Linked DNA regions of Homo sapiens. The protein of the gene in region 1 interacts with the protein of each later gene in a biochemical or structural test. Each region holds a gene or a part of one and is shown in the gene's direction. Other genes may lie near its edges. The genes, in order: APBA2, PLCB2, KCTD3, ERBB4, TECPR2, CD226 and KIDINS220.

Region 1 (3,500 bases):
CTCATTTTCTTCGTGAGAGCAAACAACCTGATCTTCTGACCATTTGTCTTGGTCACCTGGGCTACCCAAACTGAGTGAGAAGTCAGGAATGAGCCGGTAGGTTCCTGGGGAGAGGCGTGTGTCCTCGTGAGTTGCCGGTGCCTCCCTTGACTGCTTTTCCCGGAGCTCTGTGTGCCCTCGTTCTCCTTGGTGTGGATGCGTGTTGTTCTGATGATGAGTTAGCGGGGGTGGGGATGGCGCACTGTTTGAACAGATGTGCCCTCACATGGCTGCGGGAGGACGTGGTGGGAGGTGCTGTGGTGAAGTGGCCCCACACATGGCTGGGCTTTGTGGGGTTTTGACTCTGTCCTTCCCAATGTTCCTCCCCACAGTGGCTGCCTCCGGGTGATGATGGCTGTGTGAACGACTGCCATGGCCCACCGGAAGCTTGAGAGCGTGGGGAGCGGCATGTTGGACCATAGGGTGAGACCAGGTCCTGTCCCTCACAGCCAGGAGCCCGAGAGCGAGGACATGGAGCTGCCCTTGGAGGGCTATGTGCCCGAGGGCCTGGAGCTGGCTGCCCTGCGGCCAGAGAGCCCCGCGCCAGAGGAACAGGAGTGCCACAACCACAGCCCCGATGGGGACTCCAGCTCTGACTACGTGAACAACACCTCTGAGGAGGAGGACTATGACGAGGGCCTCCCTGAGGAGGAGGAGGGCATCACCTACTACATCCGCTACTGCCCTGAGGACGACAGCTACCTAGAGGGCATGGACTGCAACGGGGAGGAGTACCTGGCCCACAGTGCACACCCTGTGGACACTGATGAGTGCCAGGAGGCGGTGGAGGAGTGGACGGACTCGGCGGGCCCGCACCCCCACGGCCACGAGGCTGAAGGCAGCCAGGACTACCCAGACGGCCAACTGCCCATTCCGGAGGATGAGCCCTCCGTCCTTGAGGCCCATGACCAGGAAGAAGATGGTCACTACTGTGCCAGCAAAGAGGGCTACCAGGACTACTACCCCGAGGAGGCCAACGGGAACACCGGCGCCTCCCCCTACCGCCTGAGGCGTGGGGATGGGGACCTGGAGGACCAGGAGGAGGACATTGACCAGATCGTGGCAGAGATCAAGATGAGTCTGAGCATGACCAGCATCACCAGCGCCAGTGAGGCCAGCCCCGAGCATGGGCCTGAGCCAGGGCCTGAGGACTCTGTAGAGGCCTGCCCACCCATCAAGGCCAGCTGCAGCCCCAGCAGGCACGAGGCGAGGCCCAAGTCGCTGAACCTCCTTCCCGAGGCCAAGCACCCCGGAGACCCCCAGAGAGGCTTCAAGCCCAAGACCAGGACCCCAGAAGAGAGGCTGAAGTGGCCCCACGAGCAGGTAGGACCCTGGCTGTCCTGGGGAAGGGAGCAGAGGGGCCCGAGAGCAAGGGACCTCAGGGTACAGGCCTTGCAGATGCTGAAGCGAGGCGGTGGGGGGTGCTGGGTGCCTCACAGTTCTAATGGTGGCTGAGCTCTTCATTGGTCCAGTTGGGAGACATGTTGCGTGGATGCTCCGGCCACTCTTAAGCTCACCGCTCAGACTCAGGACTAAAGCCGGTTGAGGGCTGAGTGGCAACTCGTGTCTCGCAGAAGACACCCCTCCTCCCACCCTAGAAGAGAGGTTCGATTTCTTGCCCACTGCCCTGGTCTGCTCATGGTGGGGCAGTATGTGTGGGAGAGCCCCTCAATCCTCAGGGGTGTACTCAGACCAGCAGGGCAGTGGCAAAGACGTGGGGGTGCTGGTGCTCACCCACTGCTGCGGCCAGTGTTGGGTGGCCTGGTGGCTGGGGTCGGGGCCAGAGTGCATTTCACAATGGACGGGTCTCTGAAAGCCCGGGGGCCTTGGCCTGATGGGCAATCAGCTGTGAATACCTATTTGGAAAAGGATTTTTTGAAGGTTTGACAAAACCTCGGGGAAGAAACGCATGCTAATGAGGGCAGTGGATGTCAGCATAACTGTATTTTAATTATAGCAAAGTCAGCGTGCATTCTAATAAACACATTTGAAAAGCCACCTTCCAAAAAAAGCCTCACTGTGAGTATATAAAGAAGATGTGATTATTGGACTTGTGTGAAGGAACTTCTATTTGGCCAATTATGTGGACTTCTGTCATATTTTTTTACAGCCTTAACTGTTAAATATTTTTTTCCGAGAAGAGTTCATGAATTTGAGTGTGTGTGTGTGTGTGTGTGTGTGTGTGTGTGTGTGTGTGTGTACTGAGAGCTTGGGTTTGGAATGGAAATCATTGGATTTTCAGCACTTATATTTTAATTGACTCCTGGATTTTCAGCACTTGTATTTTAATGTCTTGTATTCTCTCTAAAGAACGTTAAGTGTCAGTTGACTTCACTTTGGGGGTGTTCCTGTCATTCACAGCAATTCCGTGTTTACAGGGGGCTGTGGGATGCATAGGAGCTCCCATGGTACTAGTGGGTGTTGGGAGAGTTCACCCCTAAGGCCAGGAGGCTCTGGACCCTGGGTCTGGGCTTTAGGCCAAAGCAAAGTGTTTCTTTGGTCTTTAGCAGGGCCTGGGCTTGTCCCACAACAGTGGTGAAGGCACCTCAGGGATTGACGTGGGCTGTGCAGAGCGTGTGACATGCTGCGTCTTATTGTGACAAATGGCATCGCTAGCCAAGTTCTTGTCAAAGAAGATTATCTTTAGAGCGTGGTGGGGAGTAAGCAAGACCTGATATTTTCTGGTTTTGTGCTTCATGCTAACCAGATGGTAATTTGGGTAAAAACACAGAGATCTTGCGATTGGAGAGCTGGGAGGTAAATGAGTGGGAATGAATGGATGGATGGGTGATAGTAGCTGTTTAAAAGGGCAGGTGGAGGTAGGGGAAGTCCCCAGCCATTGTGGAGGATCAAGAGGATGTCTGTTCTTCCCAGAAGAGGCATTGAATGAAAAAGTATGTCACTTCTCCCCCTAAGGAGAATGTGTCCTTGAAGGACATGCTCTTGTCTGAGACACTGGAAAAGTTCATTTAAACTGGTTAATGATTGTATAGCTTTTGTTTTGTTTTGTTTTTCCCTCCCTCCCTCCTTTCTGTCCTTTCCTCCTTTCCTCCCTTCCTCCCTTCCTCCCTCCCTCCCTCCCTCCCTCCCTCCCTCCCTCCTTCTCTCCCTCCCTCCCTCCCTCCTCTCTCTCTCTCTCTCTCTCTCTCTCTTTCTTTCTTTCTTTCCTATCAGTTCACAAATTAATTCTGTCAAGGGGAACACCTGCTAGTTCCAGAGTTCCAGGCTGACAAGTACCCTGGTGCCAGGGGCCCTGACTACTCTTTCTGAAGACTCTACCAGGCCCGCTGCACGTGGGCAGGGTCTCCACATTCTTAGATTTGAGTACCCCATTCCAGATGAGGACCTCTTTGAAACCTGACCAGAAAGAGCCGTAGAATTCATCTTGAAAGCAAGATTTTTTATGAAGGATGTGCACTGGGAGATTTGGTGCTGCCTTGCTTGAAATAACAACCTGCTTT
Region 2 (3,500 bases), about 11 Mb from region 1:
CAACTATTGTGCCTTGCTGGAAACCTTAATTTTAATATCTTGTTATGTACACATACAAAGACCGTTAAACTAAAAGGTAGCCTATGTGCTCTGTCAGTGAGTGGAACAGGACTTTAGAAGGTGAGTTCATTCATTCATTCATTCATTCATTTGCTCATTCAGCAAACACCACATTCAAGTGCCAAGCACCAAGCACCAAGCTCAAGGTCTAGCACAGGCTTGTTGTCCTGGAGTCCATGAGTCCCTGGGGATTTCCTAGGTGGGCTTGTAGGTCTGTGACTCACATCCCCCCGGTTACTGTAGCACATTTCAGGAAGGGTTTTCAGAAGTTGGGGGGCTTGGGTTGTCCTTGAAGTTATTTCAAGCAGAGGAGATTTGGGCACTTAGGTTTGGAGGTGGGAAGGCTTGGTATCTTTATGGGACAGTTGAATGGACAGGGTAGGAGGTGTTCATGGAGGGAAGAAGGGGCATATGGGAGGTTAGGTTGCATCTGGATTGTGCAGGGCCTTGGATGCTGGTGCAGGAGTTTGGGCTCTTGGCTCTCGCTGTGTCAATCTCTCCTGGGTGGCAGTAGGGAGTCTCGCTCTATGAGATGAGGTAGGGGCCAAGATCCTCTTTAGGGTCTAGAGGGAGAATGTCTATTTGGGCTTTAGAGGGGAAAACCCTTCTCTTCCAGAAATGGCATCCCCAATCCTCTGTCCCTCCTGGTGCTTAGCTCTAGACAACAAAAGGAAATGCCTTCAGATTTCTGGGATGGGCACCTCCTGGGAAGATAATGAGCTCTGAAACCCCTGGCCTGGACCAGGGAGGCTTGGCCTGAGGTCTTGGAACAGAGTGCTGGCTCCTTCTCTCTGCAGGAAACTACAGTTGCCTCTCCAGTTATCCTCCGTGTGGATCCTAAGGGCTACTACTTATACTGGACGTATCAAAGTAAGGTGAGAAAACCCTTGTGTGCCATGGCCCTGGACTCCTGCTTATCATTGAGGCCAGACAGCCCCCTGGCTGCACCAAGGTGGAGGCATGGATGCTGGGGAGTACAGAATGGCCTGGAAGGGTGGCTCCAGAGGCTCCCCTGTAGGCAGGGGCTCTTTGCTCTGGAAAGGAGGATGCAGTCACTCCAACCTGTGGCTACCCAAATGTTCCATCCTTAGCATCCCTTGGGGAGAGAGAGAGACAGGCGAAAGCACTGCTGCTGAAGGCTGATGCTCTGCCTGTGGCTGTGGGTTGACTTGGGGCTCTGGGAGATGAGAGATAGGCCCCAGCCTCTGGGCAGGAGGACGGGAAGGGGAAGCTGGGAAGGGTCCAGGATGGTGGAGGAGACACTGCAGGCTCCAGCTCCCTGCCAGGGAGGAATGGACAGAGGGAAAGGGAGGAGGATCTGCATGAATAGAGAGAACCTGGGCCATAGGAAGGGAAGTTTGGGTCCAGCTGGCCCTGGGCAGCCTGGCATCTAGAGAGAGGTGTTGGCCAAGATTTGAAGGGTGTGGAAGCTCCCTTCTCCCTATTGCTCATTCTTGACCTGGACTTTTTGTCCCACATCCCTTCTTTGCTCCCACCGGGATCCGCACCCTGCCCCCAGGAGATGGAGTTTCTGGATATCACCAGCATCCGGGATACTCGCTTTGGGAAGTTTGCCAAGATGCCCAAGGTAGGTGTGTCCAGTAGCAGCCCAGGCTCAAGCACAGCTACTAGCTCCATGGGGCAAGGGCAGGGGTCCCTGTGCGGGTGGGAAGCCTGACTTCTGAAGCACGGGGAATGGTTCCTTGGCTGGGCAGCAAGGACCGTGGCTGGAAGCCAAGGAAGGGGAGCGGCAGCTCCTGGGCTCGCCTGGGCTCTGAGCTTCAGAACTGCGCACAGTGAGCTGAGATGGCAGGGATCTGGGAGGAGGGGTCACCTCCTGCCCCTAAAGCACCCCAGTCTGTCTGGGAGGGGTGGCTTACACCCCCACCCCCGGACTAGTTTGCCTATATTTGCCTAATGCTGGTAGGAAAATTGGAGGAAGGGATTGGTGGGAAGCGGGGTTTCCTGAGACTGGGAGCTAAGAATCTATCTTCAAACAAAAGTGGCAACCAACACACACAGGACTCCCAGGCCGGCCTCCCCGCCTGCCCGCCATCTTGGCTAACCTTTTCCTCAGGGCCTCTCCTTCCCATCCCAGCCGCTGGAGTCAGGGACAGGAAGATGCTAAGGCCTGTGGTTCCTGGGATGGGGATGGGGTTCTGCCCAGTGGGCCATAGCCCAAGTGGCTGAGGGGAGGGCCAGAGAGAGCCACACTGGGCAGGGAGGGAGCACACCTCCATCCTAACCATACCACCACGTGCTGCAGAGCCAGAAGCTCCGGGACGTCTTCAACATGGACTTTCCTGATAACAGTTTCCTGCTGAAGACACTCACGGTGGTGTCCGGCCCGGACATGGTGGACCTCACCTTCCACAACTTCGTCTCCTACAAGGAGAACGTGGGCAAGGTGTGCCAGGGAGCACTGGGCCTGGGTCTGGGCCCCTGGGATAGCCTGGACTTCCTGAGAGACACAGGCCTGGGCGGGGGTGCTCAGGAGCCTGACCGCTGCTCTCTGTGGTCCTGCAGGCCTGGGCTGAGGACGTACTGGCCCTAGTCAAACATCCGCTGACGGCCAACGCCTCCCGCAGCACCTTCCTGGACAAGATGTAAGTGCCCTCTGCCTGGCCTGAGCCCTGGTGCTGAGCATGCCAGCCCTGGGCCTTGACGGGCTGCTTTCTGCCCCCAGCCTTGTGAAGCTCAAGATGCAGCTCAACTCTGAAGGGAAGATTCCGGTGAAGAAGTGAGCCCCCCAACCCCTCCCCAGGCTTCCAGGGGCTCCCCAAAGCCTTTCTTTCTCAGGCCTGACTCCTCTCTGTACCTGGTACCTTTCTCTGCCCCTTCAGCTTTTTCCAGATGTTTCCTGCTGACCGCAAGCGGGTGGAAGCTGCTCTCAGTGCCTGCCACCTCCCCAAAGGCAAAGTGAGTGGATCTGCACCCCTGCCCATCCCCCAGCATTCTTGTCCCCACCAGAAAGCAACTTGGCCAGGAATGGTGGGTGGGGGAGCAGAGGTGACATCACAGCCCCAGCCAAGAGCCTGGAGAGCCAATCAACCCTGGAGCTGCTGGTTACTGACACTAGGCACAGGGGTGGAGCCAGGGCAAGGGAGTGAGACCCTGAGCTCCAAGCAGGTTTGTCTGTATCCCCTACCCTGGGTGGTGGGGGCGCTGGGGCTGTGGTTGATGGACTGTGTTCAGGGCAGGCAGCAGAAACGGCATGCATTCCCAGTCTAGTGTTGGGAATGGGAGCTGAGCGTGAATGTTTTCAGCCTGGAGGAGCGAGATAAGGTCGGCAGTGGCAGGCGGCAGTCTGCAGGGATCTGGAAGTCTGCAGCGTGTCGAGGGAGAGGAACTGAACCAAAGGCGGAAGCTGCCAAGATGCAGACTTCTGCTCTGTACAGAAAAGCATTTTTCCCTGTCTTTTTAGTTAAATAATTAATTTT
Region 3 (3,004 bases), on another chromosome or scaffold:
GTTGGGTATTATAAACAAAATTTATTTCTTTTGGGGAAATTGACTGAAATATTGTAATCACATAGTTGTTCTAGAAAGCCATACTTCTCAAGGTACATTTTAAATTCAGACATTATGTTAACTTTTTAACAGTTTTACCAAATTTCTTGATAGGCATATCTGGTTCTTTTCATAGAAAAACATTTTTACCTTTTAACTTATTTTGTGAATTGCTGCCCAATTGGAAGCCTATTATGTGATCAAGAATTTATTCAAAGGAAATTAGGAAAATTACATGTCACCTTGGTTAGTATGTGAAGCTTTAATTATTGTCCTGTCTCAGGGACAATATTTATCTGTGGTTCTATTATGTTGTCTAGTCTTACATTTAAGCATTATGTAATTTTAATACAAAGTTCCATAATGTCTTTTTAGTTATCATATTGATAAATTCCAAAGTCTGAAGAACCAAGGGCTAAATACTGAATTATGATGGTTTCACATTGGTTTCAAGGATTTTTCCTCCCATCTTTTTTTTAGCTGTTCAAAAATTCAGCATGTCTGTGAATATATGATGGTATTATTTGCATTGGTAATTTTATATACCATCTATATAATAAAGAGTACTTGATAAGTATATTTTTACAAAGAGAAATATGGATATAATACACTTTATGTATTTATATAGTGTGTTTTATTGGTTGTATAATTAATATGTTCCTGAGAAATCACAGAGTGAAATCTGAACTGTCATTTTTAAAAACTGTATTTCAGCCTTCAGCTTCAGCACCATGATACCACCCATGAAGCAGCTACTTACGGTTCCATGAGGCCTTACAGAGAAAGTCCTTTATTAGCAAGGGCAAGAAGGACTGAGAGCTTTCACAGTTATAGGGACTTCCAGACTATTAATTTGAACAGAAATGTAGAAAGAGCTGTCCCTGAAAATGGTAACTTGGGTCCAATACAAGCTGAAGTGAAAGGGGCAACAGGGGAATGTAATATATCTGAGAGAAAGTCTCCTGGAGTAGAAATAAAAAGTTTGAGAGAATTGGATAGTGGATTGGAAGTGCATAAAATAGCTGAAGGTTTTTCAGAATCCAAGAAAAGGTCATCAGAAGATGAAAATGAAAATAAAATAGAGTTTAGGAAGAAAGGAGGATTTGAAGGGGGAGGATTCCTTGGAAGAAAGAAAGTTCCCTATCTGGCGTCATCACCAAGTACTTCCGATGGAGGAACTGACTCACCTGGTACTGCGTCCCCATCTCCTACAAAGACTACTCCATCTCCTCGGCATAAAAAAAGTGATTCTTCAGGTCAGGAGTACAGCTTGTGAAAACTCACCAAAATGAATAGTTGTTTCGTTACATTTAGATGAAAGTTAAACTTTACTGAATTTCAGTACATTAGTTTTTACACTAAAACTTTACAAGATAAAATTGGACTTCATTTAGTATCTTTTTAACAGAATTACTTGGAATAATGAGATACAATAATCATATCTCTTTTGACATTTTGGAAATTTTTTTAATTTTACAAGTACATTTAACAGATCATTTATAAAGCAGGAGTCCATTTTAACACTTACCGACTTTTTTTGGTTTGGAAACATATTACCACGTCTTAATAGGATGGTGCCCATATAGGTGAGCATCCCTTTAGATCATGGGAACCAGCAGACTGCATTCCTAATCTTCATTATGCCTGAGACTTGTCTTACAATGTTACCTTTAAGTGAATCACATAATTGTCTTTGGAACTTGGTCTCCCAACACTTATTGTGATTGCAAAGTGTTTACCAGATATTTGATGAGGTGCTATGTTTGTGAAAAACATATCATGTAATTCAAAAACACTATTGATATTGAATACCAGATACCACTATGTAGTAAGTCTTTTAGGATGATTTTAATTTAGTCGTGCGTCATTTTCTGATTCTCATCATTGGGAGATCTTAAATCTTAGCAAGCATTAGCAATATTAAATGCCAAAATTCCATTGAAACTTTCAAGTTGGAGCAATTGTCTGTGTTTGAAAAGATGAAATAAAAATAATAATCAAGGGCAAAGCTTTGAGTGCCCAGAAGGGAAAGCTGTACCAGTTGCTAACCTGTCTTGTTTCAGGAGCCACCATGTTTTTTTTTCAGTGTTAACAACAATCATGATAATTAAATTAAAACACTAGTTTGTTCACTTGTAGGACTGCAGTTCTGAATTTTGGGTTAAAGGTTTTGGCTGCTGTAAGAATGTGAATTTGAATGTATTTTGAATTGTAAGAGCAAAAGAACGTTTTTGTACAATTTTTTTTCATTTAATTGGAATGATCTTCAGGTTTCTACAAATAGGGTAATTGTAAATTTAAAGCATTAGCATTTATTGGTGAATAATGTATATATCCCCATTCCAAGAAATATAAGTGAGTGAAGTTGAAATAAAATCTTTAAAATTTACTATATTGCCAGTGGTTTCACAACAGTTCTCTTGTATTTATTTATCAATTAAATCAAATAAAAATGATTATGTCAATGCGTTTTCAGTTATTTAAGTAACAGTTCTGTTTAAAGTGTGCTATATATGTTTGTTCATTTCTTTGCTTCTTCCCATAATTTAAAAAAAATGGGGGGAGGGAGAACTTAATATATGTGGAAAATAAGTTATTATCAATGAAAGAAAATATTAGGCAAAGCATAATTTCAAAATTACTAAGATTGTAATTATCTTACACCCTTCTTCCTCTTTATGACAGTTATGTGAAAGTTGGGTGGGCAAGTAAGAAAATGAAAGAAAAAACTAGACTCTAGTGACCAGGAATAAAAGGCCATTAAAAAGAAGATAGTAACTATTATGTAATAGAATCGCATAAAAAGGAAACTGACTATACTAGATTGCATTACAGTACAAGTCAAATCGTTTCTTTCTTTTGCTTACAGGAGATTGAACCTTGATGCAGTGGTTTATGTCTGTCTACTCTGACACTAATTTCTCAGATTGCCCCCATTATGCCTTAATTTTTTCATTATACCTAC
Region 4 (3,500 bases), on another chromosome or scaffold:
TGTTGCCTCTACTCTCCTGCACTGGTGTCATAGAAGTCCGGCACTAGAAACCACTGATGTAATCCAGTCATCTTATGTTTTAGGTAAGGAAACTGACAGCGCAAGGAAATTAGATAATATAAACTAGTGGCAGCTCCTGACACCAATATCATTTTCTGTAGCACACATAGAAGTATTTGAAAAACCACTGACACATAAAAAAATAAGGAAACAAATAAAAGGTTATGTTGCATTAAAGAGAATTGAGAAACTGAAATGAAGACAAATGGCTTGGATCCACACTCCTAATTACCATATTGTGTAGTTCTTTCTAAAAGAAAGACAGTGGGATCCTCATGATCATCTTTAATTTATATTTGGAGAGTAATCATTGATTGCATTGATAAGTTATGGCACATGAGGAGTAAAGAAATAAAGCAACTTTTTAAAGACATCGTTCTATAAGAGGATTTCTTTACCTGGTTAGGCCTATGGAGACATAGAATCTTGAATTCCCTAAAAGTCACACAGGAGCCCACAGTACTATCTGTATATAATAGCACTTTTAAGAGTTTCTTTTCTTTCTTTTTGTTTTTTTTTAACCTGGGCTTTATGAAGATGTCCAGTCAGCAGAAAATGCTTATTTTTTCATTTTTAAAATAAGTACTATGAATGCTGAAATAAGATGGATTGTAAAGGATAAACAGTGGGTTCCTCATCACCAGTTAGTTGATGGAGACCTTTAACCAGGAAATCCATGAGAATACTTCAGATTCATCTAGGCCTGTCCTTGGACCTAAGATATGACATGAAATGATAATTTCTATGGTCTTTGTTGGGCCATCCTCTTTCATCATGGCCCTAACTAAGACATAGTTCTATTCTTTGAGCAAGAGCATAAGCAAAGCTTTAAGTACTGACTATAAATTTATTTCTATAGCACCTTTGCCTCACTCTAGTTGGCTTCTGTAAGATGCTACCTCTGGGCCTTTTGACTGCAATATTTTTGACCTAAACTTAATGCTCTCTGGTTGTAGCTGAGTTCCCTCATGTGCCTCAGCCGTCTTGGGCATGATAAGTGTTCTCATGGGCCCATGTGAAAGAAGGGAAGTTTGAAACTTGTTTTGGCAAGAAGAGTCATTTCCTGATAGAAATTGGAGATGAAAGTGGACCCCCGTAAAAGATTAACATAAACACCATGAAACTTCCTGTGCAATATCATTAAGCCTCTCCCATGAGAAGTAACACAGGATCATTACTATTAATCACATTATTTCCAATATTGTAGGGGTTACTGAAGCGTACTAAACACCAATAGGAATATGCAAGATCCAGTTTCTGAGTCCTGAGAGTTAAATTAAAAGGACTCAAGACCGATTGAAGATTTATAATATATTTCATTTCGAACATAGTTTAAATGTGTTGAAAGAGAAGAAAGTGAATGGTACAATAAACACTCTTTTATTTTCCACAAAGATTAGACTTGTAAACAATCGGTTTCACCTGCTAAATCTTTACTGCTCTGCTGACCTTTACTTACTCCTGGTCCCATGTGCTTCTAGTATAGGTGGATATCCAAGTGTTAATCTTTTGAATACAAGTGGGGATCATAAACCTGCTTTCAAAAAATGCGTGTGCTTGTTTTCTCTCCTCTGCTGGGGTTATCTCATGGCTGGTTAGGACTGAAAATAATTGACAACAGATTCTCCAGGCTCTGTGACTATATCAAGTATAGCTGTGACTTGAGCAATAAGTGGCACAGTCTTCTATTTCAGGATGGGTCCCAATCACTATCAAGGGGATGCCTAATAGAGATCATGGGTGGCAGTGACTATTTTGCTCTAGGCAAACTCTTACTGAAATCTTTGTCATTATTTCCTGTCCTTCTCTGTAGGCTTAAAGAATGTGAGAATATGGGTTTCTATAGGGACCTATGAAAACCAAATAAAAATACAACAGGATAATATTTCTTTTATACACATACTTTCATTTTCAGGAATTCCTTTTGTCTGGTAATTTTGTCTAGAACAGAGCAGTTAAATAAGTTTGTTTTAAAGGAAAGTTGACTGCATAGGTATGTTAAAAGCTACTCCCCAAGATTTTTATAAGCATCATCTGGTCCTTAGAAACCTCAGGCAGGGTTATTGCAAGATCCTCTTTATGGGTATTCTTCTTCTTCCACGTCCTCAAACCTCTAAAATCTCCTTCCTGTCACTGTCAGATTACCATTTCTAATATTATCTTAGTTTTTATTCTGAAACTTTTCATGGATCCCTCTTGTAATGTTCAAAGCCTGCTAAAACTGTCTTCAATTTCTTTTTAAATCCATCATAGAGTCTGTTAACATGTACTCTGTCTAAAAACCAGACTGACCTAGTCAATATCTCATGACTATGCCTTCCTTATTGTCCTTACTTTTGCTGATCCCTTTTCCTGGAATTTGTGGCTTACTTGGTGCTTTTACTTGGCCAAACTTTTGAATCTTTTAAGTTTTACTTTAAATTATACGTCTTTGTTACATCTTCCTTCACTGGCTACTCTAGCCAGTAGTCCTTATCAATATCACTTATCTGGCATTTAATCAAACCAACCAATAGTTTTGACTTTTTAAGTACCAATGTTTTTATACTCTGCAGAGACTAATGTGGTGCCACATACATATAAGCTCTTTAAAAATTTTTTTTACATGAATGAATAGCATACATTTGCAGGAACAATTTTAAGCTCGTTCATGAATGGTTATTATTTGTAATTAAACCATATAGTGCACAAAGTAAGCTGTTTGAATAACATAATTATAGAATTCTTAATAATAGCTATTGGGCATGTTTACCCTGCAAATTTCTTTAGTTGCTTTCTTGAGCTTCCTAGGGTATTTCTTCAAGTGGTGTGTTTCTAAGACGCTATCATTCATCCCTATCCCCATTTTTAGAATCTACCCATAAATATGGTGCAATTTCTGTTGGTTTTATTTCTGGCAAGTTAAATATATGTGGAATGTGGATACCACTTTTAAACATGTAAATATTTTGTAGTTCAGTATTTTAATGTTAATGGCTATTATTTTGCTATTTCTTACTTATCTGCCATTTAAACATTTAATCAATTTAAGCAATAAGCATGTACTGATCCACCAGTGTGTATTTCAGGACCATGTTAGGAACTGAAGAGGAAATATAAGAAGCTCAAGATGCCAGCTTTTTCTTTCTTTAAAGAAGAATAGATGAGGCCAATAAAACACAATACAAAAATATGTTATTAAGTGATTTTGCAGACTCTTGGGAGGAATATTTGCCTCCAGATAAAATGTTAATAAATATTTCATGAAAAAGGGTTCCAGATAGAATCTGGCATTTTCTATTCCTAGATATATGTGATAATACAACTTTGTTATAGCTAAGATTTCTCAGTATCTTAAAATAGACAACTAGACATATGCTTACCATTTTAAAAGGATCCTATAAAGGAAGCACTTGCAGTATAACTGAACTGAGAGGTGATGGGGATTCTCTTAGTTGCTC
Region 5 (3,500 bases), on another chromosome or scaffold:
AGGTTCAAGCTATTCTCCTGCCTCAGCCTCCTGAGTAGCTGGGATTACAGGCATGCGCCATTATGCCAGGCTAATTTTGTATTTTTAGTAGAGACAGGGTTTCTCCATGTTGGTCAGGCAGGTCTCAAACTCCCGACCTCAGGCGATCCGCCTGCCTCCGCCTCCCAAAGTGCTGGGATTAAAGGCGTGAGCCACTGTGCCCGGCCGCTCCTCTGATTGTTAAAATAGCATTTACAGTACATTTCTTGAAAGTCACCTACTTTAAGGCTTACATCAGATAGTCTCACATTTAGTGGAGTTGCTTTCATGGTTGTGGAAGATGGGGAGATTGAGAAAGGAGGAAGGAAAAATCAGAAACCACTTTACTGATCCCTGCTCTCCGTCTGAGACAGTATGTGGGATTAATGCTCCAAAAGACATAGATTTGCATAGAGTTTTAGAATATTTAAATCTGTCATCTGGGACATACCGTTTACCCTTAACTCAGTTCTTCCTTGTAGGATTTATTTTTCTCTGTGCTTTTGACATTTTTTGGTAATTCATACAAGCCCAAATTTTAATGAGCAAAGAATCCTAATATGTGTCCTCTTGCGGACATCCACATGCTTTATATATTTGGGTTCCTCGGGGAACTTGTTCCTCATGGTGGCAACAACAGCCATGTGGACCCCATCACCCTCCTCCTCACTACCATTACCTCTGATGTCAGAGAGGGCAAATTGGGGTGAATATTCCAAAACATAATTTGTATAAGAAGTGAATAAGCTCTGACTCTTGAGTTTATGAGCTGGGGGCCCCTCAGACAGTGTCATCAAAGGGTTAGAATGGCTTTCAGGAAGGGTGGTGACTTGGAGCCACCAGGCTAAGCTCTGGACCTCTGCTGCCCATAGAGCTTTCTGCAGTGATGAAGATGCTCCCATCTGCCCTGTCTGGTAGGCAGTCCCTGTCCATGTGTGGCTGCTGAGTACTTGCAATATAGCAAGTGCAGCTGAGAGATGAATTTTACATTTTGTTTAATTTTTATTTTATTTTATTTTATTTTTTGAGACAGAGTCTTGCTCTGTATCCCAGGCTAGAGTGCAGTGGTGCAGTCTCTGGTCACTGCAACCTCCACCTCCTGGGTTCAAACGATTCTCCTGCCTTAGCCTCCCGAATAGCTGGGATTACAGGTGTGCACCACCACACCAGGCTAATATTTTGTATTTTAGTAGAAAGGGGGTTTCACCATGCACCATGTTACCCAGGCTGGTCTCGAACTCCTGAGCTCAGGCAGTCCTCCCACCTTAGCCTCCCAAAGTGATGGGATTACAGGCATGAGCCACCGCGCCCAGCCTAAATTTTGTTCAATTTTGATCAATTTGAATTTCAATACTTACAAGTAGCTGGTGGCTGCCTATTGGACAGGGAGCTCTAGGCAAGATCTGCCATTAAGTTATGTAATCTTCAGCAAGTCGCTTCACAGCAGAGTCCTCCCCTCCAGTCTCCAGTGTACACTTCATTGCCTGCAGTCTGCCCCTAACACATGCCCTCAATAGAATGTGGGTGCTTCAAGGGCAGGAATTCCTGTGTCTTATGGACTGCCATGTCCCAGCAGCTAGCCCTGTGTCTGGCACACGGAGGATCCCCGATAAAGAGAGGATGGCGAATGGATCAAAGTGGGCTGTGGTCTTGTGTTGAGGGTACTGTAGCTGGAACTGCTCTGGCCTTGTGCCCTGTGGTGTCGTGTTGCAGAAAAGATGAGTCCACTGCAGTGGGAAGCTCACTGGCCCTTGGGCTTGGGGACAGGAGACAGGTACTCACATGCCTGTTCTCACTCTGCGGTCTACTGGCCTTGATGCTGTGTGGTAATGGACTTCTCTGTCTTGAGTTTGTTCTAATGGAAAATTACCTTTCCCTCTTCCAGGAAACTTAATTACAGGTACACATGTATTTTTCAAATGCCCTTTGAGTAATCTTAAAGTATATTCAAGGCAGAGTCTTAGTATGAAGTATAACTAAGCTGTTTTGTTATACACAGGCATCTCTCATTTGTAAATAATTTGTAAATTGAAGCGAGAAATGCTGTATTCTTAGTATTTTTTTACTTTTTTTTTTTTTTTTTTGAGACAGGTTTCACTCTGTCGTGCAGGCTGGAGTGCAGTGGCATGATCTCAGCTCACTGCAACCTCCACCTCCCAGGCTCAAATGATTCTCCCACCTCAGCCTCCCAAGTAGCTGGGACTATGGGCGTGCACCACCACACCCTGCTAAATTTTGAGACTCCGTCTCAAAAATAAATAAATAAATAAATATAAAAAGAAAGCTATGGCAAATTATTTTACTGATTTTAATATATGAGCTTCTTGAAGAACAAAAACTGTTTCTTAGAGTCTTTTGTATGATTCTTTTAGTTTTGGTGGATTTTTTTTTTTTTTTTTTTTGAGACGGAGTCTCACTGTGTTGCCCAGGCTGGAGTGCAGTGGCGCAATCTCGGCTCACTGCAAGCTTTGCCTCCCAGGTTCACACCATTCTCCTGCCTCAGCCTCCCAAGTAGCTGGGACCCCCGGCGCCCGCCACCATGCCCGGCTAATTTTTTGTATTTTTAGTAGAGACGGGGTTTCACTGTGTTAGCCAGGATGGTCTTGATCTCCTGACCTTGTGATCCGCCCGCCTTGGCCTCCCAAAGTGCTGGGATTACAGGCGTGAGTCACCGTGCCCATCCTAGTTTTGCTGGTTTCTATGAATTTAGAATCATTCAGTTCTTTAGCTGGCTGGTGCCTCTGTGACAACTGGTATTTAGGGCTAGCAAACGTGGATAAGTGCACATCAGCTCTCTCTTGGATCACCAGTGGTAAAACCAGACTCTTCTTTCTTAGTGAGAGATGGTCTGGAGATGTCTGGATGCTCAGAGCGTGTCCACGTGCAGCAAGCGGAGAAGCTGCCAGGGGCCACAGTTTCTGAGACGAGGCTCAGAGGCTCTTCCATGGCCAGCTCCGTGGCCAGCGAGCCAAGGAGCAGGAGCAGCTCGCTCAACTCCACCGACAGCGGCTCCGGGCTCCTGCCCCCTGGGCTCCAGGCCACCCCTGAGCTGGGCAAGGGCAGCCAGCCCCTGTCACAGAGATTCAACGCCATCAGCTCAGAGGACTTTGACCAGGAGCTTGTCGTGAAGCCTATCAAAGTGAAAAGGAAGAAGAAGAAGAAGAAGACAGGTACCCTCTGTAGCTGGCACACACCCATCTGGGGTTACAGTCTTTCCAGATTCTCTGGGAGTGCTGCTGCTCACTGAGTGAGCAATGCTCCATACATCCAAAAGCAGAGAACACATACATTTCTTCCCCAAAGGAGTTTTACTGCAAAATACTTCACATTAACGGAAAATACACACACACACACACACACACACTGTAAGGTCTAAATGATGACAGAACACCTGTGTGTACTCACCACCCTGCTTAAAGGGTCTCAGTTTTGTACTTTTCAATATTTATTTATGTATTTATATTATTTATTTATTTTTTGCG
Region 6 (3,500 bases), on another chromosome or scaffold:
GATTTTCATTTGTCATAAGAGAAGTATTTTAGGTGCCACTAAAATAATTTGTCAAATATTTTAATATTAGCTAAATGATTTGCAGACTACTATTGTTTAAACTGACCTTATTGGCTATAAAAAGAATGAAGGCAAAAGAAATAAAATCAGCTCTTGCAGAAAGTTTCTGGAGGAGGCTAATATTGAAAAAACTTCTGTTTGCTATTGATAAGTATAATTACTCATGTCCTTGTATAATCGTCTTCCACCAGTGAGACCACTCAGGCGGGACCATCAAGGTTCAAATGAGGCATTGATGATTAGAGCTGAGGAATGACATGAAACAGGTTATGAAGAGTAACCCCAAATATGCAGGAGGAATGGGGAGATGGTGCATGGGAGACTGTAGTCAAATGACTAGGTTGGTATGGAGAGTCTAAGTTATGTATTAATATGGGACGAGGTAGGTTAAATTAAGTGATGACAGTGAAAACCTGCATCTCATATAATTGTCAAGCAAAGCTACCATTAGTTCTTGAGCAAAGATGGCAAAACAATAATCATGAAAGAATAAGTTGCTATATGATTTTCAGTGTGCAAGTCTTTAACATTTTTGGTTAAGTTTATTCTTAAATACTTTATTCCTTTTATTGTTATTGGGGATGGGATTTTGTTTTAATTCCTTTTTTGGATAGTTTGCTGTTTGTGTACAGAAACCTGACTGATATTTTATATGTTGATTTTTGTATCCTGCCTCTTAACTGAATTCATTTATTAGTTTGAACAGGTTTTTTTGTGGCACTTTTAGGGTTTTATACATATATGATTATGTCATCGGCAAACAGAGATAATATTACTTCTTCCTTTCTGATTTGAATGCCTTTTGTTTTCTTTTTCTTGTTTAATGGCTCTGATTAAGACTTCTTGTACTATGTTAAGCAGAGGTGTTGAAAGTGGCCACCTTTGTCTTTTTCCTGATCTTAGAGCAAAAGTTCTCAGTCTTACATGACTTGGTATGATGTTAGCTGTGGGCTTTTCATAGATGGCCTTTATTGTGTTGGGGTAAATTCTTTCTGTACCTAATTTGTTGAGAGTTTTTTTTTTTTAATCACACAAGGATGTTGAATTTGTCAAATGCTTTTTATGCTCTATTTTGATGATCATGTGGCCTTTTTATATCACTTTGTTAATGTGGTGTATTACATTGATTGATTTACATATGTTGAACCATCTTTGCATGCCAGGGATAAATCAGAATTGATTAGAATATACAATCCATTTAATGTGATGGTGAATTTAGTTTGCTAGTATTTTGTTGAGGATTTTTTCATCTGTGTTCATTAGGGATGTCAGCCTGTAGGTTTTTTTTTTTTTTTTGTGGTGTCTTTGTCTGGTTTTGGTATCAGGGTGATGCTGGTCTCATAAACTGAGTTTAGAACTGCTTCTTTTTTTAAAAAAGAATTAAATCATTTATTGATTACACATGATAATGTAGAACTGTTTCTAAACTCAGGATTGGCATTAATTCCTAGAATGTTTGATAGAATTCATCTGTGAAGCCACCTGGTCCTGGGATCAGTGATGGGTCATAGGCCACTGATCCACCTACCTTTGTAGGCACAAAGGTGTCCTACACAGGGTAGAGAGATACTGTCAGCATGATTTGAATCTCAGTTTGTGCTTTCCACTGCCTCAAAACACTCACACTTTCCTACTTTCTCCTTTTTCTAACTGACTAAGTTTCCATCACATTTGCTTTCTTTCCTATAGAGTTTCAGCCGTCTCAATGTCTATGTTTTTTTCCACATCAGACCAAACTGCTTCCCCATCATTGAAATATTAAGCATCTTGGATTTCTCAAACTTTTATAGTCTGAAAATTGCTACCCTCGAGTGACTTATTAACTTCCATCTATTTGTATTTATTTATTTATTTATTTTTTGAGACCGGGTTATGAGACTGGCTAATTTTTGTATTTTTGGTAGAGATGGGGTTTCAAGGATGGTCCTGGGCTCAAGCAATCCCCTGCCTCAGCCTCCTAAAGTGCTGGGATTGGTAGTGTGAACCACCACACCTGGCCTGCATCTATTTGTAATGTTCCAAACTCTGGTTATCAGAAATTAATTGAGATTAAGGATTATGGCATCTGCTTAAAGTTGTCAAAGCATCTTTTCAGAATATGCCCAGTAAGTGTTCTTGACCGATTATGTTAATGTTTCTATTCATTCTAGTAGGGGCTGTGTCCATTTTAATTTTAAGTTTTCTACCTCTTTTCTTTCCAGATTTTTTTTCTTCAACGTTTAACCTTTGAGGTTTACTGATTGTTGATCAAAGAAACTGAACTTTCAAAAGATCAACTACAGTGATTGGAGAAAAAACTTTCATGAACTCTTGTTTACATATATAACTTTCAGATAGGGCTATTTACTTTTTTAACTTTCATTTTCTTATTTTGAATTTTTAATATAAGTGGCACATAATTGCTGGTCATCTGAATAGAAGGATGGGATTAGTAAATTAAGATTACAAAACTATTCACTAGGAAATCATAGTGCCACAGCTAAGAGAATCTTCCCAGATATTTCCTCTGGGACGATGTGAGGTATAGGATTGACAAGGAGGAAGGACAGGGGAATAGAGTGCTGTAAGTTATAAATACATCCGTATATAGATGATACATCTTATTTATACAGATTATAAATCTTGCCTGTAGATGGCTTGTGGGAGGTTACTGACTTTGAGACTCTGTGCTCCTGAGTTGGATTATAAAATTATTGAAGAAAGGAAATAAATTTTGCTTATTTCCTTGGCCTTTTATTTCTGTCAAAAACCAACCAGTTTGCTCCCAGTCCATTTGGATTCCAGAAGAGTTTCAGGTTGTAGACAAGACAGTTTTTTTTTTTTTTTAAGGATTCCATTAATCCAGAACCTTCTGTCCCACTCCTATGAATTTAGAATAGATATAAAGCTTGTGGACATGAGGATTGTCTGAACTGGTGTGCACTGGGCTGACAGATATGTCCCTTTCCATGACATTGTGTGGTGAACCTCAGCCTTTTATTATCTTTACCTACATGGAAAGTAAAATGTCCATGACAGTTAATTTATATGATGGAGCAACACGACCAGAATCCCAGAGCACCGTGTCACTGCTCACAAGCTAAAATAACCTCTACTCAAACAGATCAACCACAATTTTCAGCCCAATTTAGTTTTCTCGGTGAAACTGGGTATCCAGATGAAACATAGTTTCCAGCATCACAAGTGAGTTGATTACTCAATCATGGCTATTATGTGGTTGAATCTTTACTTTACTGTTGCCTCTGCCCAGATCATTTTTTTTAATGATCTATTGCATTCAAAAAAATGCAACCGGTCAGTTAATTTGTTTTGTAAGCCCTAGTATTGATCTATTCATTTTTTGAACACACAAAAACCTAGAATGTTTGCCTGCAGTCATTTTTTATACATACTATTATTGTATAGATAAGTAAGATATTGAATAATAGTGATAAGTTATT
Region 7 (3,500 bases), on another chromosome or scaffold:
AAGAATGCCTTGATGAGAAAGAGAAAGCTCTGAGGGATTCCCATTGGGATAAACAGAACTCATCTTTCCAGTGTGGAACCGAAAACCTTTGTGTTACATTTTTTTCTAATTGTAATATTTGTTAGTGTGATTTAGTGATTATCAAAGTAAGCCACACTTGCCTCATTTTCTCCAAATTCTCATTTTCATGTCATGTAGGACTTAGGATCATGTCACATTTGATGAAACCACATAGGTTTGGGTTTGCAAGGTTAATGCATTTGCATAGTTTTTTTTTCTTCTAAGATCCTATTGCAATTCTAGCAGCTATCAGGAAGTTGGCTAGAGATGCCTGAGATTTGGGGGAAGGTTTTAACGAAGTCTTTATAGTAGGTATTTCACTAAGGTATACTTTTTATATCAGAGTACTGTGTAATAAAGTAGAACGTTAATAACCAGCCTCTAATATTTATATACTTGAAAGAATGACATCTGAGAGAAGTTTTTTAAAGAATTATGAGCATATGTAGACACCATTTTACTCATCTCAGCCAATTTTAGAAAGGTTTCAGATAATGTCAGTTTCCTTACAGAGCTGGCTCGTGCTAGTCCCTGTTTGCATGAGTCAAACACCGGCTTTTCCATGGATAAGCCCCACTTTCTCCTTCAGGCAGCTGGTTGGTGTCAGGAAAGAGCGGGGTCTCCCACACGAGTCCTTTGTGATGATTTTGTTCCCATCGGGGTAGTGGTTTTCTCCCCACTCAGCTCTTTGCTCCTAGACCCCGGCTTTCTGAAGCCCCTCAGAGCCGCTGGCCTCCTCCGTGCTTAGGGCTCCGCGGCATTGTTGCAGCAGGACCTCTGTCACAGACTTGCTGTGTATACTGTTTTCTTCAGGATTAACTTGGAAACTGAACATTCTATTGATTATAAACATAGCTATTTCATAAATTTGCCCCAGTTAATAAAGTCAGGTTTTACATTTTATAAAAGCAGTAAGCTACCTATTATTAATAAAGAAAATGCTGTTGTTTCATTTAGGGGAAACTAGAATTACAGGGAACCAAAAGTAATAACTTCCTTTTTTATGATTTTTTTTTTCTTTGAGATGGAGTCCTGCTATGTCACCCAGGCTGGAGTGCAGTGGCGTGGCCATGGCTCACTGCAACCTCCCGCCTCCTGGGTGCAAGCGATCCTCCTGCCTCAGCCTCCCAAGTAGCTGGGACTACAGGCATGTGCCACCACTCCCAGCTAATTTTTGTAGTTTTAATAGAGATGGAATTTCACCATGTTGGCCAGGCTGGTCTCGAACTCCTGACTTTAGGTGATCCACCCACCTCAGCCTCCCAAAGTTCTGGGATTACATGCGTGAGCCACCGCGCCGGGCCTTGTGAATTTAATAGACTGGAAAATTAGTGGGTGGGCATTCTTCATATCTGTATCTAATATAACGGATAAACAAGTTTGCCAGGCCTACTTCATTTAGAACGTTGTTAGTGACCAACACGCTTATGAGAACAGATGTCTTTGTCCCCTCCCAGCAGCTTGTGTTCATGTTCATATTTTCTAAGATTAGAAAACAAAAACTAACAGTTTTGTTGTTGCTCATGACAGCATAGGTAGTTTTGGAAATAGGAGGGTTAGTTCTTCGGTTGGTCCCAGAAAATGCCTAAGACATTTGGGAAAATATGAAGTGGCTGATGTTGTTCAAATTCAGCTTGTTTATTGTATTATTATATGGGATGATAACCTTTTTTTTGGTCAGCCTTTCTGGTCTCTAGAGACTTATTTAAAACTAAATATAAGCATACTTGGCAATCACTAGTAATTCAGAATATTTCACATTCTGTCTTTATACCCATAATTGTTTTAATTTTTACTCAGGCAAACATAAATGGCCGTGTGTTAGCTCAGTGTAACATTGATGAGCTGAAGAAAGAGATGAATATGAATTTTGGAGACTGGCACCTTTTCAGAAGCACAGTAAGATATTTGTAACATTGTGATGTTTACAACATTATTTTATGATAACATTCAAAATTATTTATAACATTGTAGAAAACCAGTATCAATAAGTACTGGCCTAAACTGGTATTTTTTTCATATTTTTTTAAATTTAAAAACTGCTTCTTACACTTATGTGCAATCCTGTGTTGTGGAAAATACACACAGCAGCACTTGGCAGCCTTTGCCTTTTTGGGCATTTCACTCAGAGATTTGGGGAAGAGGCCGCCTGCCGGTTCTTCATGCTTTCACCTGCCTTAACTCTCATCAGGCTCCTCAAAGCCTTCGAGGCCTTGACCTTCAGCATTCATCCTTATAGGGCTTGCATTGCCCAGGTTTAGCAAGAATCCTGTTAAGTCAGTTTACATGTGTGATCACCCTCAGTATTTGATCAAACGCCTCACTAACCCCCCCACCCCCAGGTGATGTCGGCTCACCCTGGCCATCGGCGTACCAAGAGTCCCCCACTCCTGCTGCCTCCCCTTAGTAATGTTCCATCCACGACCCCCACCCTGCCCCTTGGTGGTAGATCCCCACTCATTCGTGCTTATTCCGAGTTGGACTCCCTTCTGTAGTGAGACTGCTTACCCCTGTTGCCATAGTTCTGAATAAAATCTGGACCTACCGCCCTACTCCTGGCCAGCTCTGGTTTTGACACAAGCCAGCTGCATTTTTCTTTGTCCTCAAGTTAAGTTTTAAACAGAAGTAATAATTTAATGGACAAATTGCAGTGTAGTATATGTATGGTGGTTTCTACCATTGCTTCCTTTAGTATTAATGAACATGAAAGATAAGCTGATGTATAAAACAAATTCACTAGAAATTCACTTACCAGAAGTATGCTTTCTCATTGCTGTTGCAATAGCTTTATAATGTTTGGTATTTCTAAATATTTCTAAAGCTTCTAAAATATGATTTGTTAGTGTAAATATTTATGTTTTTCTTCTGTTAAGGTACTAGAAATGAGAAACGCAGAAAGCCACGTGGTCCCTGAAGACCCACGTTTCCTCAGTGAGAGCAGCAGTGGCCCAGCCCCGCACGGTGAGCCTGCTCGCCGCGCTTCCCACAACGAGCTGCCTCACACCGAGCTCTCCAGCCAGACGCCCTACACACTCAACTTCAGCTTCGAAGAGCTGAACACGCTTGGCCTGGATGAAGGTGCCCCTCGTCACAGTAATCTAAGTTGGCAGGTATTTATTGAATGGCATTTTTCATATTATTGAAGAATAAGCACACCGTTCAGTTCACTGAGATTATATGGGCATTTAGACAGTCATTCAGAAAATGCTTACTGAATACCTAAGTGAACAGGAGACAAGATGGAGGGCTCCCTGTACTCAAGGAGCTGCATCCATGTGGAGAGGGGCAGTCAGTGAAACAAACAAAAAAGTAGCTCATGTAGACATTGATGAGAGCTGAGATATCCATCAGGGTCACAGCATGCAGAGTCAATAGGGATTAGGCCACTTGAGCTAGGGTGGTCAGCAAATTCAGCCTTTCTCAGGCGATCTTCCTGTTGC

The links.
Region 2: the proteins of APBA2 (region 1) and PLCB2 interact in a test that uses a peptide from one of them, tested with the Homo sapiens proteins (one large-scale study listed by IntAct).
Region 3: the proteins of APBA2 (region 1) and KCTD3 interact in a test that uses a peptide from one of them, tested with the Homo sapiens proteins (one large-scale study listed by IntAct).
Region 4: the proteins of APBA2 (region 1) and ERBB4 interact in a test that uses a peptide from one of them, tested with the Homo sapiens proteins (one large-scale study listed by IntAct).
Region 5: the proteins of APBA2 (region 1) and TECPR2 interact in a test that uses a peptide from one of them, tested with the Homo sapiens proteins (one large-scale study listed by IntAct).
Region 6: the proteins of APBA2 (region 1) and CD226 interact in a test that uses a peptide from one of them, tested with the Homo sapiens proteins (one large-scale study listed by IntAct).
Region 7: the proteins of APBA2 (region 1) and KIDINS220 interact in a test that uses a peptide from one of them, tested with the Homo sapiens proteins (one large-scale study listed by IntAct).

The regions. Positions count from the first base shown.
Region 1 is NC_000015.10:29,053,474-29,056,973, forward strand, and holds part of APBA2 (amyloid-beta A4 precursor protein-binding family A member 2), read left to right. Parts: intron 1-371; 5' UTR 372-411; coding exon 412-1,362; intron 1,363-3,500. UniProt on the Homo sapiens protein: Putative function in synaptic vesicle exocytosis by binding to STXBP1, an essential component of the synaptic vesicle exocytotic machinery. May modulate processing of the amyloid-beta precursor protein (APP) and hence formation of APP-beta.
Region 2 is NC_000015.10:40,301,436-40,304,935, reverse strand, and holds part of PLCB2 (1-phosphatidylinositol 4,5-bisphosphate phosphodiesterase beta-2), read left to right. Parts: intron 1-857; coding exon 858-935; intron 936-1,579; coding exon 1,580-1,648; intron 1,649-2,326; coding exon 2,327-2,467; intron 2,468-2,586; coding exon 2,587-2,666; intron 2,667-2,746; coding exon 2,747-2,800; intron 2,801-2,903; coding exon 2,904-2,979; intron 2,980-3,326; coding exon of another isoform or gene 3,327-3,344; exon of another isoform or gene 3,345-3,500. UniProt on the Homo sapiens protein: The production of the second messenger molecules diacylglycerol (DAG) and inositol 1,4,5-trisphosphate (IP3) is mediated by activated phosphatidylinositol-specific phospholipase C enzymes.
Region 3 is NC_000001.11:215,619,304-215,622,307, forward strand, and holds the end of KCTD3 (BTB/POZ domain-containing protein KCTD3), read left to right. Parts: intron 1-753; coding exon 754-1,315; 3' UTR 1,316-2,504; downstream 2,505-3,004. UniProt on the Homo sapiens protein: Accessory subunit of potassium/sodium hyperpolarization-activated cyclic nucleotide-gated channel 3 (HCN3) up-regulating its cell-surface expression and current density without affecting its voltage dependence and kinetics.
Region 4 is NC_000002.12:212,528,803-212,532,302, reverse strand, and holds part of ERBB4 (receptor tyrosine-protein kinase erbB-4 isoform JM-a/CYT-1 precursor), read left to right. Parts: intron 1-3,500. UniProt on the Homo sapiens protein: Tyrosine-protein kinase that plays an essential role as cell surface receptor for neuregulins and EGF family members and regulates development of the heart, the central nervous system and the mammary gland, gene transcription, cell proliferation, differentiation, migration and apoptosis.
Region 5 is NC_000014.9:102,428,941-102,432,440, forward strand, and holds part of TECPR2 (tectonin beta-propeller repeat-containing protein 2), read left to right. Parts: intron 1-2,855; coding exon 2,856-3,188; intron 3,189-3,500. UniProt on the Homo sapiens protein: Probably plays a role as positive regulator of autophagy.
Region 6 is NC_000018.10:69,888,874-69,892,373, reverse strand, and holds part of CD226 (CD226 antigen isoform a precursor), read left to right. Parts: intron 1-3,500.
Region 7 is NC_000002.12:8,733,114-8,736,613, reverse strand, and holds part of KIDINS220 (kinase D-interacting substrate of 220 kDa), read left to right. Parts: intron 1-1,860; coding exon 1,861-1,959; intron 1,960-2,933; coding exon 2,934-3,170; intron 3,171-3,500. UniProt on the Homo sapiens protein: Promotes a prolonged MAP-kinase signaling by neurotrophins through activation of a Rap1-dependent mechanism. Provides a docking site for the CRKL-C3G complex, resulting in Rap1-dependent sustained ERK activation.